Linked DNA regions of Homo sapiens: regions 1 and 3 are each reported to be linked to region 2. Evidence: microRNA targets listed by miRTarBase, many of them from high-throughput screens and not tested one by one. Region 2 holds a microRNA gene; each other region holds the end of a gene's coding sequence.

What was found. The annotated mature microRNA hsa-miR-6868-5p reads ACUGGCAGAACACUGAAGCAGC and lies in region 2 at 1,344-1,365, opposite strand. An mRNA with a match to its seed (bases 2 to 7 or 8) in the 3' UTR can be bound and repressed. Matches are read on the target gene's strand: a 7mer-m8 pairs with bases 2 to 8, a 7mer-A1 pairs with bases 2 to 7 and ends in A, and an 8mer does both.
Region 1: the mRNA of SSX5 is a reported target of hsa-miR-6868-5p. Seed matches in the 3' UTR shown: 7mer-m8 at 1,875-1,881.
Region 3: the mRNA of ZNF710 is a reported target of hsa-miR-6868-5p. Seed matches in the 3' UTR shown: 7mer-m8 at 2,532-2,538.

Annotation. Positions count from the first base shown.
Region 1 is chrX:48,183,053-48,188,122 of GRCh38, reverse strand. It overlaps SSX5 (SSX family member 5), which reads left to right. Exons shown (of 8, transcript NM_175723.2): 7 at 392-496; 8 at 1,267-1,903. The coding sequence ends at 492. Among named protein-coding and RNA genes, the nearest start is that of SSX5, 11 kb to the left of the region's middle.
Region 2 is chr17:76,096,707-76,101,777 of GRCh38, forward strand. It overlaps MIR6868 (microRNA 6868), which reads right to left and starts at 1,370; the gene lies at 1,313-1,370. EXOC7 (exocyst complex component 7) reads right to left here. Exons shown (of 19, transcript NM_001013839.4): 3 at 4,973-5,071; 4 at 4,565-4,670; 5 at 1,090-1,312.
Region 3 is chr15:90,079,227-90,084,296 of GRCh38, forward strand. ZNF710 (zinc finger protein 710) reads left to right here. Exons shown (of 5, transcript NM_198526.4): 5 at 434-2,965. The coding sequence ends at 603. IDH2 (isocitrate dehydrogenase (NADP(+)) 2) reads right to left here. Exons shown (of 11, transcript NM_002168.4): 11 at 3,819-5,070. The coding sequence ends at 5,040. ZNF710-AS1 (ZNF710 antisense RNA 1) reads right to left here and starts at 2,981. Exons shown (of 2, transcript NR_146321.1): 1 at 2,213-2,981. RefSeq lists an enhancer at 4,752-5,070.

The DNA.
Region 1 (5,070 bases), not on the chromosome of region 2:
TTCCAAAAAAAAAATTGCAACATCTGTGAAGCAGTATGAAAATGAGGTGCAATAAAACAAGGTACGCCTGTGTGGCCTTAATAAATACGTGCTGAATGAAAGGAGGTAAGGGTGAATGTTCCCGTAAGTGAAGAGGTTGGGAATCTAAACCTGACAACGGAAGGAGCCAGAAGCTAAAACTTTAATTTGCATTTGGCCTGTATTGGTGTGGGTCTAAGGTCTCAGCCTCTCTAAGCCAGAGAATGTGAAAAACTGGATAAAGAAGACCCATGGGCACTTGGTGGTGGGGAGGCATCTCCTTTTTTGGAGAAAACAGAGCCTAACACTCTCCAATCAACCCAACCCTCTCCAATCTACCCAACCCTCATCTTCCAACTCTTCTCCATCATAGGACCCAAAAGGGGGAAACATGCCTGGACCCACAGAGTGCGTGAGAGAAAGCAACTGGTGATTTATGAAGAGATCAGCGACCCTCAGGAAGATGACGAGTAACTCCGTAAGTGAACCTTTGGCTCATCTCCCACATCCTTGCAGATGTGCTATTCTGTTATGGTACTGGTATCCCATCTTATCAGTTGTTCCCCAAATCATTCCCTTCTCATAATTTTCTAGGGTACAGCATTGAGGCTGAATGATGAAATTTCCCATGTTTTTTTTTGTGGGTGGGGGAGTCTCCTTTTGTTCCCCCAGGCTGGAGTGCAGTGGCATGATCTCGGCTCACTGCAAGCTCCGCCTCCCGTGTTCACGCCATTCTCCTGCCTCAGCCTCCCCAGTAGCTGGGGCTACAAGCACCCGCCACCACGACCGGGTAATTTTTTTTCTTGTATTTTTAGTAGAGACAGGGTTTCGCCATGTCAGCCAGAATGGTCTCAATCTCCTGACCTCGTGATCCATCTGCCTCCGCCTCCCAAAGTGTTGTGACTACAGGCGTGAGCCTCTGCGCCTGCCTAACCATGCTCTTTCTACTCCCTGCCCTCTATATCCAGGGATCCTCCCTACCCAGGATGCTGTGGGTTCCCAAACCCCAGGTCAGCACTGATATGCGGGCCACACCTTCCTCTAGCCTAGGAATTGATAACCCAGGCGAGGAAGTCACTGTGGTATGAGCAGATGGTTCACTTCAAGGAACCATGGAAGGCGTGTACAGGTCCTGAGGTAGGGCAGAATCGGAGTGGGCAGGGTCTGCAGGTCAGGAGGAGTTGAGATTGAGTTGTCATGTGGTGGGAACTCACTGCCACTTACTTTCCTTCTCGCTTCTTGCCTCAGCCTCGGGGATATGACACATGCCCATGATGAGAAGCAGAACGTGGTGACCTTTCACGAACATGGGCATGGCTGCGGATCCCTCGTCATCAGGTGTATAGCAAGTGAAAGCAAGTGTTCACAACAGTGAAAAGTTGAGCGTCATTTTTCTTAGTGTGCCAAGAGTTCGATGTTAGTGTTTCTGTTGTATTTTGTTACAGTGTGCCATTCTGTTAGATATTAGCGTTTTCACTGATGAGCAAGACATACTTAATGCATATTTCAGTTTGTGTATCCATGCACCTACCTCAGAAAACAAGTATCGTCAGGTATTCTCTGCATAGAACAACACTACCCTCCTCTCTTCCCAGATGTGACCACTGAGGGCAGTTCTGAGTGTTTAATTTCAGATTTTTTCCTCTGCATTTACACAAACACACACACATGCCACACAGACACACATGCGCGCGCGCGCGCACACACACACACACACACACACACACACACACACACACCAAGTACCAGTATAGGCATCTCCCAACTGCTTTTCCCCATGTGTCCTGGTCAAGCCCCCCTCACTCTGTTTCCTGTTCAGCATGTACTCCCCTCATCCGATTCCCCTCTATCAGTCACTGCCAGTTAATAAACCTTTGCAAACGTTCCCCAGTTGTTTGCTCCTCTCATTATTGTGCACACAGCTCTGTGCACTTGTGTGAATATTTCTTTAGGAAAGATTCTTAGAAGTGGAATTGCTGTGTCAAAGGAGTCATTTATTCAACAAAACCCTAATGAGTGCGTCCTCGTGCTGAGCGCTGTTATAGGTGCTGAAGAGACATCAGGGAACAGGGCAGACAGATGTTCCTGACCACCATTCTAGAGGAGGATGTTTCCAGTTGTTGGGTTTTTTTTGCTTTTTTCTAGAGACAGGGTCTTACTCTGTCCAAGCTGGAGTGCAGTGGCATGATCATAGCTCAATGCAGCCTTGATCTCCTGGGCTCAAGCGATTCTCCCACCTCAGCCTCCAGCGAAGCTGTGACTACAGGCACACACCATCATGACCCACTAATTTTTTCAGGTTTTGTCAAGAAAGTCTCCCTATATTACCCAGGCTGGTCTCGAACTCCTGGGCCAAAGCGATCCTCCCATCTTGGCCTCCTAAAATGTTGGGATTACAGGCATGAGCCACCGCAACTGGCCTCCAGTTTTTATTTTGATAGAGACTATACACTTCAGTCCTGGAGCAGTATTCTGCAGCAGGTGGTTGGGAATCTTGGCCTTTGCTCTCTGAACGATTTTCGGGTTCTAGGGCTGGGACGGTCCATTTGGGAGTATGTGGTAGGAGACACAGATGAAATCATCATCTGGGGAATGCAGAGGGATGGGGAAGATGCGTGCACTGTAGACCCTGTGATGGCCAGGGAATAGAAGAGTTCACTTAGTCTCCATGCGGGGGAGCAACGGTGGGAAAGTCCCCTGGACAGAAGCATGAGACTGCCCATCAAGGGTCTCACCACCCAAGGGCCTGGGGGCTGGGGTGGAGACGATGATTTGGGAATGGGACAGTTCTTTCTCACAGGTACCACTGCACGGTGCAGAGGTGAAACAGTTGTGGGGAAGGGAAGGGCAGAGGGGAGTCTGTTTTAGAACAAACCATTGTGTGTGAATGGAGACATTAATGCTTGAAACACAACGGACTTGAAACAGCAGCCCCAGGTGGAGGCAGGATTGGAGCTGTTTTGACCATTCATACCCCATCACCTTGGCCTCCTGGTTCTCCCCAGCCTTGGAAGGAGAACACTATGATCATTATGCCTATATGATAGATGAGAGATAGAGTCCCAGACAGATGGTAGGTGTCTTGTCACAGGTCCTACAGCTGGCAGGTGCAGGAGGAGCTGAGTTTGGAGCTCACTGACTTCAGAAACATTAAGGAGGACAGGTGTGTGTGGTGGAGGGAGGGAGAATTGAACAAACTCCGGGTTCTGTCCCCAGTTGCAAGGTAGAGGCTGTGGGTTCATTTTCCCAAGACAAGGAGCCCTAGGAGAGAGAGAGTGCGGGGAGGGAGAGGCGGTCATGGTCACAGCAGGGACAGTGGGAGACAGAGATATGCAGGGTGGGCAGAAGAGGGGCAGGCAAAGAAGCAGGGGATACCCAAGGCCAAGTGTGGGCTGTCACAGCCACCAGAGGGAGAGGGTGCCAGGAAGGAGGTTGTGGGGCTCCAGGAGCAACAGAGGTTCCCCAGATCTGTGAGCATGCCCTGCCTGGCACTTCAGGAAGAGATGGCTTCCACCCAGGTCAGTGTGGACGTGCCTCTACCTGTGTCTCAGAAGAAACAAATTCTATTTTATCCCAATATAGTTCTGTATTACACAAATGTAACATTCCGATACTAGATATTGAGTGCCTTATCCTCCATGCAAAGAGGAGAGAATACCCTAAAAGAGATACTGAAGGATTTGACTTTTCTTTCTCCCTGGGATGATGGGATCCATAAGTTGGGTCCCCCAGCCCACAAGACAGGTGCAAGGAAGGGTGGCTGGAAGATTGTGAGTCATGACAGGGAACATTTTTCCTTAGGTTCCTTGGGTATATAAAGCTCCCGACTATCTGTCTATCATGGATAAAGAGTGAACATGGTCCCCTCTCCACAAATGTGTTTCTCTACTTCATTATTACTGTGAAGGGCTGAAGTTACACCAAGTCCTGATACATTTCTTTTTCGTGTTTTTTTTTTTTGAGACAGTATCGCAGTCTGTCGCCCAGGCTGGAGTGCAGTGATGCAGTGATCGAGGCTGCTCACTGCAGCCTCGATCTCCCAGGCTCAAGGGATTCACCCACTTCAGCTTCCGATCTAGCTGGGACTACAGGCACACACCACCACACTCAGCTGGTTTTTGTATTTTTTTGTAGAGACGGCATCCACTATGTTGCCCAGGGTGTTCTGGATCCCCTGGCCTCAGGCAATCTTCCTGCCTCAGCCTCCCAAAGTGCTGGGATGACAAGTGTGAGCCACCTCGCCAGGCCTTCAGTTTCTTTAATGAATAATTATCAGAGTTTCATCTTAGAGGCAAAAGTGGCTACTGCCAGCCAATCTGTCTGTGGTGTTGGAGGGGAATCTGGCTGATTCAGACGTTTCTGATGAACTTTTAAATTAACTTACATGATGATTTTCCTAAGGCCCTTTCCAGCTCCGTGTTTTCTTTGATTCAGGGTTTGGAGATTTTCAGAGGCTTTGTTACAAAGAGCGTCTCCTGGGCGGTCGCGGTGACCCACACTGTAATATCAGCACTTCGGGAGGCCGAGGCAGGCAGATCACTTGAGATCAAGAGTTTGAGACCAGCCTGGCCAACAGGGTGAAACCCCCGTCTCTACTAAAAATACAAAAATTAGCCGGTAGTGGTGGCTGGCCTGTGAATTCCAGTTACTGCAGGGAGTGAGGCGGGAGAATCCCTTGAACCTGGGAGACGGAGGGTGCAGTGAGCCGAGATCATGCCACTGCACTCCAGCCTGGGCGACAGAGTAAGTCTCTGTCTCAGACAGCATCTCTCGCCTATAGTGATTTGAGCTGTGGTCTTGTCTCCTTGGGTTTCTCTATCAGTCTGATCCCATCTACTCTGTCTCCCAGGTATGCCTCAGTATTCCTGGTGGACCACTGACACGCTTTCCTATTTTCCTCTACTGTTAAGAATTGACCCTTGAAAACATTTTCATCCCAGTTCAATGGAATGTTGAGTGGGGCATGGGATCTATCTGCCATCTTGCTCCAATCATCTGGTTTTAGATATTTATGTACTTTTGTCACTATAGACGTGTCTTTTTTCTCAATTT
Region 2 (5,071 bases):
CCACCACGCCCAGCTAATTTTGTATTTTTAGTAGAGATGGGGTTTCTCTATGTTGGTCAGGCTGGTCTTGAACTTCTGACCTCAGGTGATCCGCCCACCTTGGCCCCCCAAAGTGCTGGGATTACAGGCATGAGCCACTGCACCTGGCCTTCTTTCTTTTGAGACAAGAGTCTCACTTTGTCAACCAGGCTGGAGTACAGTGGCGTGATCTTAGCTCATTGCAACCTCCACCTCCCAGGCTCAAGTCATTCCCCGCCACCTCAGCCTCCCAAGTAGCTGGCTCTGCAGGCATGCGTCACCACACCCAGCTAATTTTTTTATTTTTTGTAGAGACAGGGTTTTGCCATGTTGGCCAGGTCTCGAACTCCTGAGCTGAAGCGATCCACTCACCTCAGCCTCCCAAACTGTTAGGATTACAGGCATAGCCACAGCACCTGGCATAAATAAACCTTAATAGTGCTCATCTTTGGCTTATGTAATGGAGGCATCAGGGAATGGGAGATGGACTTTTACTTTTCACCCATGGCTTTGAAAATTTTACAACTAATCAAAAAAGGCAAAGGAACATAAAAATCAAGACAAGAAAAGTTTGAATTTGCCTAGATTCACCACTTGATATACAAGTCATAGAATGGTTGCTTATATTCTTATATTGGTTCCAGTTAAACATCCTTTTATCAAAAAAACCATGACAGGTGGATTAAAGAATAAAGGGGGCCAGGCATGGTGGCTCACATCTGTAATCCCAGCACTTTGGGAGGCTGAGGTGGGCAGATCACCTGAGGTCAGAAGTTCAAGACCAGCCTGGCCAACATGGTGAAACCCCATCTCTACTAACAATACAAAACTTAGCCAGGCATGGTGGCATGCGCCAGTAATCCCAGCTACTCGGGAGGCTGAGGCAGGAGAATCGCTGGAACCCGGGTATGCAGAGGCTGCAGCAAGCCGAGTTGCACCATTGCACTCCAGCATGGGCAACAGAGCAAGACTCCATCTCAAAAAAAAAAAAAAAAAAAAAAAAAAAAGAACAAAGGGGAGAAAACTCCCTCTGCCTCTGGTGTGTCATGTGGCCAAGCCAGAATCCCTTACCTTGGTTGCGGCCATATTCCACCAGCCAGCGGGAGATGCGAATGACATCCTGGAGCACGCTCTCGGGCAGGTGCTCCAGGGTCACGTCCTCCTGGGCCTCCAGATCATCGTCACCACTGATCAGATCCAAGATGAGCACGGGCGAGACGACCTTACTGTGCCGCGTCATCAGGCTGCGAAATTCGGACTCCAGGGCCTCCTTCCCGCGCTCAAAGAGCAGTTTCTGCACAGACAACAGAAGGAAGCAGGTGCCTGCTGCTTCAGTGTTCTGCCAGTCCTGGCCTTCCCCTGCCTGTGCCAGCTCTGTCTTCTTAACTCAGGGCCTCTGCCCTTTTCTGCCCTGATATCTTTTTTTTTTTTGAGAGGGAGTCTCGCTCTGTCACCAGGCTGGAGTGCAGTGACACAATCTTGGCTCACTGCAACCTCCGACTTCCTGGTTCAAGCAATTCTCCTGCCTCAGCCTCCTGAGCAGCTGGGATTACAGGCACGTGCCACCATGCCCAGATAATTTTTGTATTTTTAGTAGAGACGGGGTTTCACCATGTTGGCAGGATGGTCTTGATCTCCTGACCTCAGGTGATCCACCCGCCTCAGCCTCCCAAAGTGCTGGGATTACAGGCATGAGCCACTGCACCTGGCCTGCCCTGATATCCTTTAACCCAAAGAAGAAACGCTGGGAAGCGGCCTTGGTGACTCCTTTACTTCATGTTCTCTCAAAATTTGTGTTTACAGGTAAAACCCAGGGTTTTACAAGAAGTAGGTGCTTAATAAATACTGGCTGATTGGCCGTGCACGGTGGCTCACGCCTGTAATCCCAGCACTTTGGGAGGCCGAGGCGGGCAGATCACAAGGTCAGGAGATCGAGACCATCCTGGCTAACAAGGTGAAACTCCATCTCTACTAAAAATACAAAAAAAAAAATTAGCCGGGCGTGGTGGTGGGCACCTGTAGTCCCAGCTACTCGGGAGGCTGAGGCAGGAGAAAGGTGTGAACCCAGGAGGCGGAGCTTGCAGTGAGCCAAGATTGCGTCACTGCACTCCAGCCTGGGTAACAGAGTGAGACTCCGTCTCAAAAAAAAAAAAAAAAAAATACTGGCCGATTATTTTCTCACTGAACCGTTAATTTGTCTTCTTGTTAGTGGGGGGTTTGCAAAAGAAAATAAATAAATAAATTGAACAATATCAAGTTGAAAACTTTTGTGCTGCAAATGATACCACCAACAAAGTGAGGATAACCCACAGAATGAGAGAAAATATTTGTAAACTATGTATCTGATAAAAGACAGGTATCCCAAACATAAAAGAGAATGAATCTGTCCACACGATGACATATATAAGAGGGTTTATAGCAGCATTATTCACAAGAGACAAAAATTGGAAACAACCCAAGTGTCCATCAAAGGATAAATGGCTAAAGAAAATGTGGTCTGGCTGGGCACGGTGGCTTACGCCTGTAATCCCAGCACTTTGGGAGGCCGAGGCAAGCAGATCACCTGAGGTCAGGAGTTCAAGACCAGCCTGGCCAACATGGTGAAACCCCGTTTCTACTAAAAATACAAAAAATTAGCTCGGTGTGGTGGCAGGCACCTATAATCCCAGCTACTCGGGAGGCTGGGACAGGAGAATCGCTTGAACCCAGGAGGTGGAGGTTGCAGTGAGCCAAGATTGCGCCATTGTACTCCAGCCCGGGCAACAAGAGCATAACTCCGTCTCAAAAAACAAAACAAAACAAAAAACCAAAAAAAGAAACTGTGGTCTATCCACAAAAAGGAATATCATATGGCATGAAAATGAAATGAAGTACTGATACATGCTATAGCATGGATTGATCTTGAAAGCATCACGCTAAGTGAAAGAGGCCAGTCACAAAAGGCCATGTATTATAAGATACCATTTATATTAGAAATTCAGAATAGGCAAATCCATAAAGACAGAAAATAGATTTGTGATTTCCAGAGGCCAAGTCACCATCTTGCTCTGATGATCTAATGACCCCAAAACTTAAACACAAAAATATGATGAAGGCAGGTACAGTGGGTAATGCCCGTAATCCCTCCCAACACTTTGAGAGGCCAAGGTGGGAGGATCACCTGAGGACAGTAGTTTGAGACCAGCCTGAACAACACAGGAGACCTCATCTCTACAAAAAATTTAAAACTTAGCTGGGTATGGTTGCACATGCCTGTGGGCCCAGCTACTTGGAAGGCTGAGGTGGGAAGACTGCCTGAGCCCAGGAGTTCGAGGCTGCAGTAGCTATGGTTGTACCACTGCAGTCTGGCCTAGATGACAAAGCCAGATCCTGTCTCTTAAGATAATAATGCAAAAAAAAAAATCACATAGATTCAAGTTCCTAGAGTAGATTCACAGAAACAGAAAGTGGAATGGTGGTTACCAGAAGACAGAGGAAGGGAGAATGGGAAATTAGTGTTTGATGGGAGTGGAGTTTCACTTGGAGAAGATGAACATATTTGTGGAGATAATGGTGATGGCTACATAACATTGTGAATCTACTTAATGCCACTGTTAACTTAGAGTTAAAATAGCACATTTTGGCCAGGCACGGTGGCTCACACCTGTAATCCCAGCACCTTGGGAGCTGAGGCGGGCGGATCACCTGAGGTCAGAAGTTTGTGACCAAACTGGCTAACATGGTGAAATCCCGTTTCTACTAAAACTACAAAAAAAAAAAAAAATTAGCCGAGAGTGGTGGCGCACACCCTCCCAGCTACTCAGGAGGCTGAGGCAGGGGAATCACTTGAACCTCGGAGGCAGAGGTTGCAGTGAGCCGAGATCGTGCCATTGCACTCCAGCTTGGGAAACAAGAGCAAAACTCCATCTCAAAAAAAAAAAAAATTTATATTATGTATTTTTAACCAAAATAAAGGAACAACAAATGCATTTATAAAAATCAAACGTGGCTGGGTGCAATGGCTCACGCCTGTAATCCCAGGCCAAGGCGGGGGATCATCTGAGGTCAGGAGTTCGAGACCAGTCTGGCCAACATGGCGAAACCCCGTCTCTACTAAAAATACAAAAATTAGCCAGGTGCGGTGGCGAGTGCCTGTAATCCCAGCTACTTGGGAGGCTGAGGTGGGAGAATCACATGGACCTGGGAGGCAGAGGTTGCAGTGAGCTGAGCACTGTACTCCAGCTTGGGTGACAGAGCAAGACTCTGTCTCAGGAAAAAACAACAACAACAACAACAACAACAACAAATCAAATGTTAAGTTTATATTTTATATGTAATTTATAATTTAATTTTTATAATACATTAACAAGTTTTATAATAAAGAATTTTTAATAATAAAAAATGTGCAATTCTTGAAGCAGAGATCCTAATGCCTATAGGATGTACTGTGCTATATCCTTCTGTGTATTCTACTGCATACATCCTCAAGCTGGCTCCATGTCCCTCATGAGACCAGGGCAGAGACTGATATCCCCAAGCTTCTCACGTTATTCTGCGGACCCCTTACCACTTTGTTGAGTTCCGGGCTGTCTGGGCTGTTGTCCTGGAAATACTCCACTGCCTTCTGAATCTTGGCCATGCTTCCCAGGTACTCTTCCAGCCTACCTGTGGGGCTGGGAAAGAAAAGAGCCAGGTCAGGCTGGGGCATGGGGGATGAAGAAGGACTAAGGACACAGTATTTGGGAAAAAGAAAATTAATACAGGGGACTCCAGGCTCAAATATATTCTATCCCCCCACTGCCTTTTAAGGCCTAGGGCTTAAAAGGCGTCTCACTGTGTTGTCCAGACTGGTCTTGAACTCCTAGTCTCAAGCGATCCTCCCACCTCAGCCTCCCAAATTGTTGGGATTACAGACCAACCCTCCTGTTGGCCCAGGAGGCATTAGGAATTGACCCTCTGGGCCTCACTCACTCACCCCTCTCTGATGATCTTCTCAGTGTCACTGGCCACATGGTAGTAGCTGATGACATGGTCCAGGCAGGACAGCGTCTTCTCAACATTCTCCTGCAGCCGC
Region 3 (5,070 bases), not on the chromosome of region 2:
GCGAGGCCTGCGAAGTGGCTGGCATGCAGCAGGTGCTAATGAGTGCTGCAAAGGTGATGTCACGCAGGCAGCTTCCCGTGGCCAGAGAAACATTGCAGAGAAGGGATAAGTAGGGCTTAGTGACTTTGACGGGTCAATGGAAGAATGACCCAAAGAAGGCTTCAAGGCCAGGCCTGCAGTTCTCCACCACAAAGGCCCTCACTGATAGCACCCACTCCCCCACACTCAGCTTTGGGGCCTAGGTCTGGTCACCCAGCTAGAAGCCACAGGACCCTGAGGCGTCCGAGGGTGGGAAGGCTGAGAGGCAGCTGAGACTCCTGGAGGCCGTGACTGGGAAGCCCTCTCTTTAGAAAGGCCATCAGCTTCCTGCGTGGGGGTGACTGGCTCCTCCCGAGAGATGGCAGCCAGGTCTGACTGTGCCCCTCTCTTACAGACCCCATGATGGAGCTGACAGGCACTGACCCTTCAGAGCTCGACGGCCAGCAGGAGATGGAGGACTTCGAGGAGAACGCCTACAGCTATGCGAGCGTGGACAGCAGCGCCGAGGCCAGTGTCCTCACTGAACAGGCCATGAAAGAGATGGCCTACTACAATGTGCTATAGCGCAAGCTGGGCCACCCCTAACGGGGGCCGGGGGCGAGGGCATGGGGGTGAGACCCATGGGCTGCAGGCTGCACCTCCTGCAGCCGAGAAACAAGCTACTGCCCCACTGTTCTGAGCCCTCCCTCCCCGAGTCATTTGCACCACTAGGGACCTTTAGACCAAATGGAGACTGTACTACTGGCCCCGGCTGTGAGCCAGCACAGGCCCAGGCATCCCAGCAAGGGAAGGAGAACACGCGAGGCCCAGATCTGGGTCTCCCTGGCCTGCTTCCGTGGGGAGTGGGAGAAGTGGGGCCACTGGGGACAGGTCACAAGGGCACCGGCCCTCGGGGTCTCTCCAGGCCCAGCAGAGCTCTTCAGGGGTCCTGACACTGGAAGAAGAGACCACTTGAGCCATGTCTTTTTCACGGCCAACTCCTGCCTCTAAGGATGTCTGAGCTCCCCTCTGGCCAGTACTGCCCACCTCTACCTTGTCCAGGCCCCCTTCCCCGCCCTGTCGACGGACCGCCAGGCAGGGCACTCTGCCTTCTACCTCCCGGGGTCTCCCATGCGCTCCTCAAGCCAGGTGTGCACGTGGCCCTGGCCCTGGCCTGCAGGACAGCTGGGGGGCACCCAGCCCCCAGAAGACCCCTGTCCTACATCCCTTTCTGGAAGTGAGTGTCCCTACAGTGGATTGCAACACATGTCGTCCACTTCGACCCTAGCTGGAGTGCCTCACCAGGGGGCCCCACTAGGAACAAAGCCAGGACAGGCCCCGCGTCAGGCACACACTAACAAAACCAGAAGCATGGGGCAGGGCAGGGCGGAGTGAGGGCATCACAGGGGACCAAGAAGGGCTGTCCTTGGGGGAGGCCCAGGACCACCTGTCGGGGAGGGGGACCGCAGTCATTTCTCATTCCTCAGTGTCCACCTTGCGACGGGGATAGCCACGAGTCAGCAGCTTCCCGGAAAGAGCAACGTATTTTAAAAAGGAAAGTAAAGCCCACAGAGGGAAATCAAGGGTTTTTTTGAGCAAAGGGGGTCTTCTGAAGGTAACTTATTATTTTTTTCTTTCCAACTGTGTGTCACCTATGACCTTTTCTGATGGAGATGCATTTTCTTTTTCCAAGCGTAAGCTTCCTAATGTGCTGTGCGTGCTTCCTACCCACCCACCCCGAGCAGCCTGGCCGGGCAGGACTGGGGCTCCATGGGGACTGTCACCCTGGCCCTGGAGGTGCAGCCGCTGGCAGCAGCCTCAGCAGGCTGGGGTGGGAGGCAGGAGAAGGCAGAGCTGGGAAGCCCTCCACCCCTGCCTGGCTCCTGCAGTCGCTGACTTGCTCTGTCCCATGTCCCATCCTCGGCTGTCAGGGCTGCTGACTCTGCTCAGCCAACAGCTAGCTCCCTCGCTCGCCTGCTCTCTTCCCCTCTGTTCCCACGCCAGCTCCTGCCCCTGGAACCAGAGATGACAGGCCCAGGGCAGTGAAATAGCACATTCAGGAACTCTAGGGCACCCGGACCCCCCCACCCACTTGCCTCCTGAGGCCTCAGTGGGGAGGGGCAAGCAGGGGTCTTCCCCAAAGGCACAGATGAAGCCACTAGCTTCAGCCTAGAAACCCGGAGAAGGGAACAGCCTGCGGTGGGAGGAACCAATCTGCAGCGCAGCCACCCCCAAGGCTGGATCCTTAAGTGAAGGACCAAGCCAGGCCTCAGGGTGACTGTGATCAGGACTGAGGGGTGGACAAGGTGGCCCAAGTATGGCTTCCAGACCCCGAAGCCCCACGACCTCCCAGGTGCCCGCCATGATGACCCTCAGGTGGCAGTGACCCCGTCACTGTATAAGACATTTTCTCCTGCTGAGCAGAAGGCATCATCCCCTGCAACTACCTCTTCCCACGTCTTTCTCCCCTGGTACCAAAAAGAACCCTGTACCTCTCCTCCTCCTCCTCCCTCCTGCCAGTGCAGTGGCCTTGGTCTTGGAAACTGAAGGGAGAAGGTCTGGCCCCCAGGGTGGGGCTCTCCTTTCCCTCCCCCAGCCCCGCCGTCAGCACTGGCCCTCTGTGAGGTTCGATACTTGAACGCCCCCTGCCCTGTGCCTTGGACCTGGGCAAAGCTAGGAGGAGGAAACAGCACAACTCACAGTTTGAGCTGGGGGGTGGTCTTGGCAAGGCTCCTGTCTGTACCCCTCCCTAACCTTCTCAAAAGAGGTGCACAGCCTCTCGGGTGACTTGGAAACTCCTGGACAAATTCCATTCTAACTTATTTTGACATGTATACAAACCAACTGTTTAGAGATTCCACTTGTGCAAAGCCCTACTGTGTTTTTATGTTCCTGTTTAAAAGAGAAGTTTACTTAGCAATAATTATAAATAAATGAATATTCTTTAGTGAGGTGACTGCAAATGCTTCTTTCCCCAGCTCTTGGGGACCTGGCCCTCACTCCCAGCAGGAACTCCCAGCAAAACTTCCCAGCCCCACACAGCAGGGCTGCACTCTCCCAGGGCCCGGGGGAGGCTGAGACCATCCTCTGCACTGGAATGGCCCCCTGCAGGGCCAGGCGCCTATAGCCAGCTGCCCCGGGCCCAAGAGAGTGGTGTGGGCCACGGCCCCTGTATTCCCACCACTTGCAGAGAAAAGCTGCTTCCCCTCCCTACCCACCCACATGGCTTCAGGAAAGAAGCCAGCTCCCGATGCCAGGCTGGGCTTCAGAGGCTGCGTTCTGCAGAGCTGCCAGCCCCGTGCTGGTGACAGGCAAGAAGAGGCAGGAAGCCTTGAGCTTCCTCCCAGGGGCTGGGCCTGCTAGAGCCAGCAGTCCACGTTTCTTCTTATAGCCCTGAGAGTTTCAGGGCATTACTCAGGAAAAGCAAGCGGGGGGTCACCAGTGTGGATGGAGGGCTAGAGCCCTTCCAAAGCCACTCAGTCTACCGCAATGGTCGGGTTTCAGGAGCCATAGGAGTCCCCCCAGTATTTAGGAAAGGGACTTTGTAAGATGGGGTTTTGAGAGATGGGGTCTCACTCTGTTACTCAGGCTGGAGTACAGTGGTGCAGTCATAGCTCACTACAGCCTCAAACTCCCGGGCTCAAGTGATCCTCCCACCTTGGCCTCCCAAAGTGCTGGGACTATAGGCATGAGCCACCACACCTGGCCAGGACTTTATAAAGATTATACAACTCTTCTCCAGGACATTTTAACACCAAAAAGAAGAAGCTTTGCAGAACTTACTATGCAGAGGACAGTCCTTTTGATTATATGTAGCTTTAGAGCAACTTTTATTTTTCCTTTTTACATGGGGCTAAAAAACTTGCATAGAGCAATTTTTTTTTTTTTTTTTTTTTTTTTTTTTTTGAGACAGAGTCTTGCTCTGTCACCCAGGCTGGAGTGCAGTGGTGCAGTCTCGGCTCACTGCAACCTCTGCCTCCCAGGTTCAAGCCATTTTCCTGCCTCAGCCTCCCGAGTAGCTGGGACTGCAGGTGCGCATCACCACGCCTGGCTAATTTTTGTATTTTGAGTAGAGATGGGGTTTCACCATGTTGGCCAGGCTGGTCTCGAACTCCTGGCCTCAAGTGATCCACCCACCTCAGCCTCCCAAAGTACAGGGATTATAGGCGTGCGCCACTGTGCCCGGCCGAGAACAATTTGTCACAAGCTTACTTTTCTAGTTTTGCCAATGCATGGTGAAAGTGAACCCAAGCCTGGGAACTGCAGGCCTAGACAATGCAGGGCCCTTGTTCACACACACCCAAGCCCCTCCAAACTCAGGCAGCCTTGGAAAGGAGAAGTGTGAGGCAGGTGTGGGTAGGACCTCTTTTTAGTACCTAGAAAAAGGCTAAGAAAGTGGCCTGGAGATGTTTAGAAGGTTAAAACCAACGAAGAAAAAAATCAATGACAACCTATCAGGAACTGATTGACTCTCAGAATGGAGAACTGGACACAGAAACTGGATCATGCTAGAAAATTCCAGGGAACCCACAGGCCTGTGCCCTGAGTGTCCGAGAACTCCGCAGTGGGCCCCTGTGGAATGCGGGCTCCCAGGGCTGCCTGGTCCCTTCCCTGCCGTGGCAGCCCCTTCCTGAGGTGCTCTGGTCTGCCCCAGGGGAACCTGCCAGCTCTAGCAGGGCCTCTGCCTCAGGGTCCCACTACCTCCTCCCCTCAGGGACAAACACAGCAGACAATTTTGTGAAGAGCTTTTTAGTAGCTAAATATGGCACCATGTGTTCCAAGGGCAATATAAATTACAGTATGCAAAACATACTGACTGGCTGAGGTAAAACGCACTGCTCCTGCCTCACGTCACCATGAGGGGAAACACACATATGCTTTTAAAAACATCTGGCTTATAAAAAAACATCCCCTAGAAAGGCCTCCAGAGAGGGGCTGTGAGGCTCACCCTCTGCCGCGCTCAGGAGGACCCGCCGGCTCAGCCCTGGCCCCTCCACTGCAGCCATGGGTGGCGCCTCCCCCTACTGCCTGCCCAGGGCTCTGTCCAGGTTG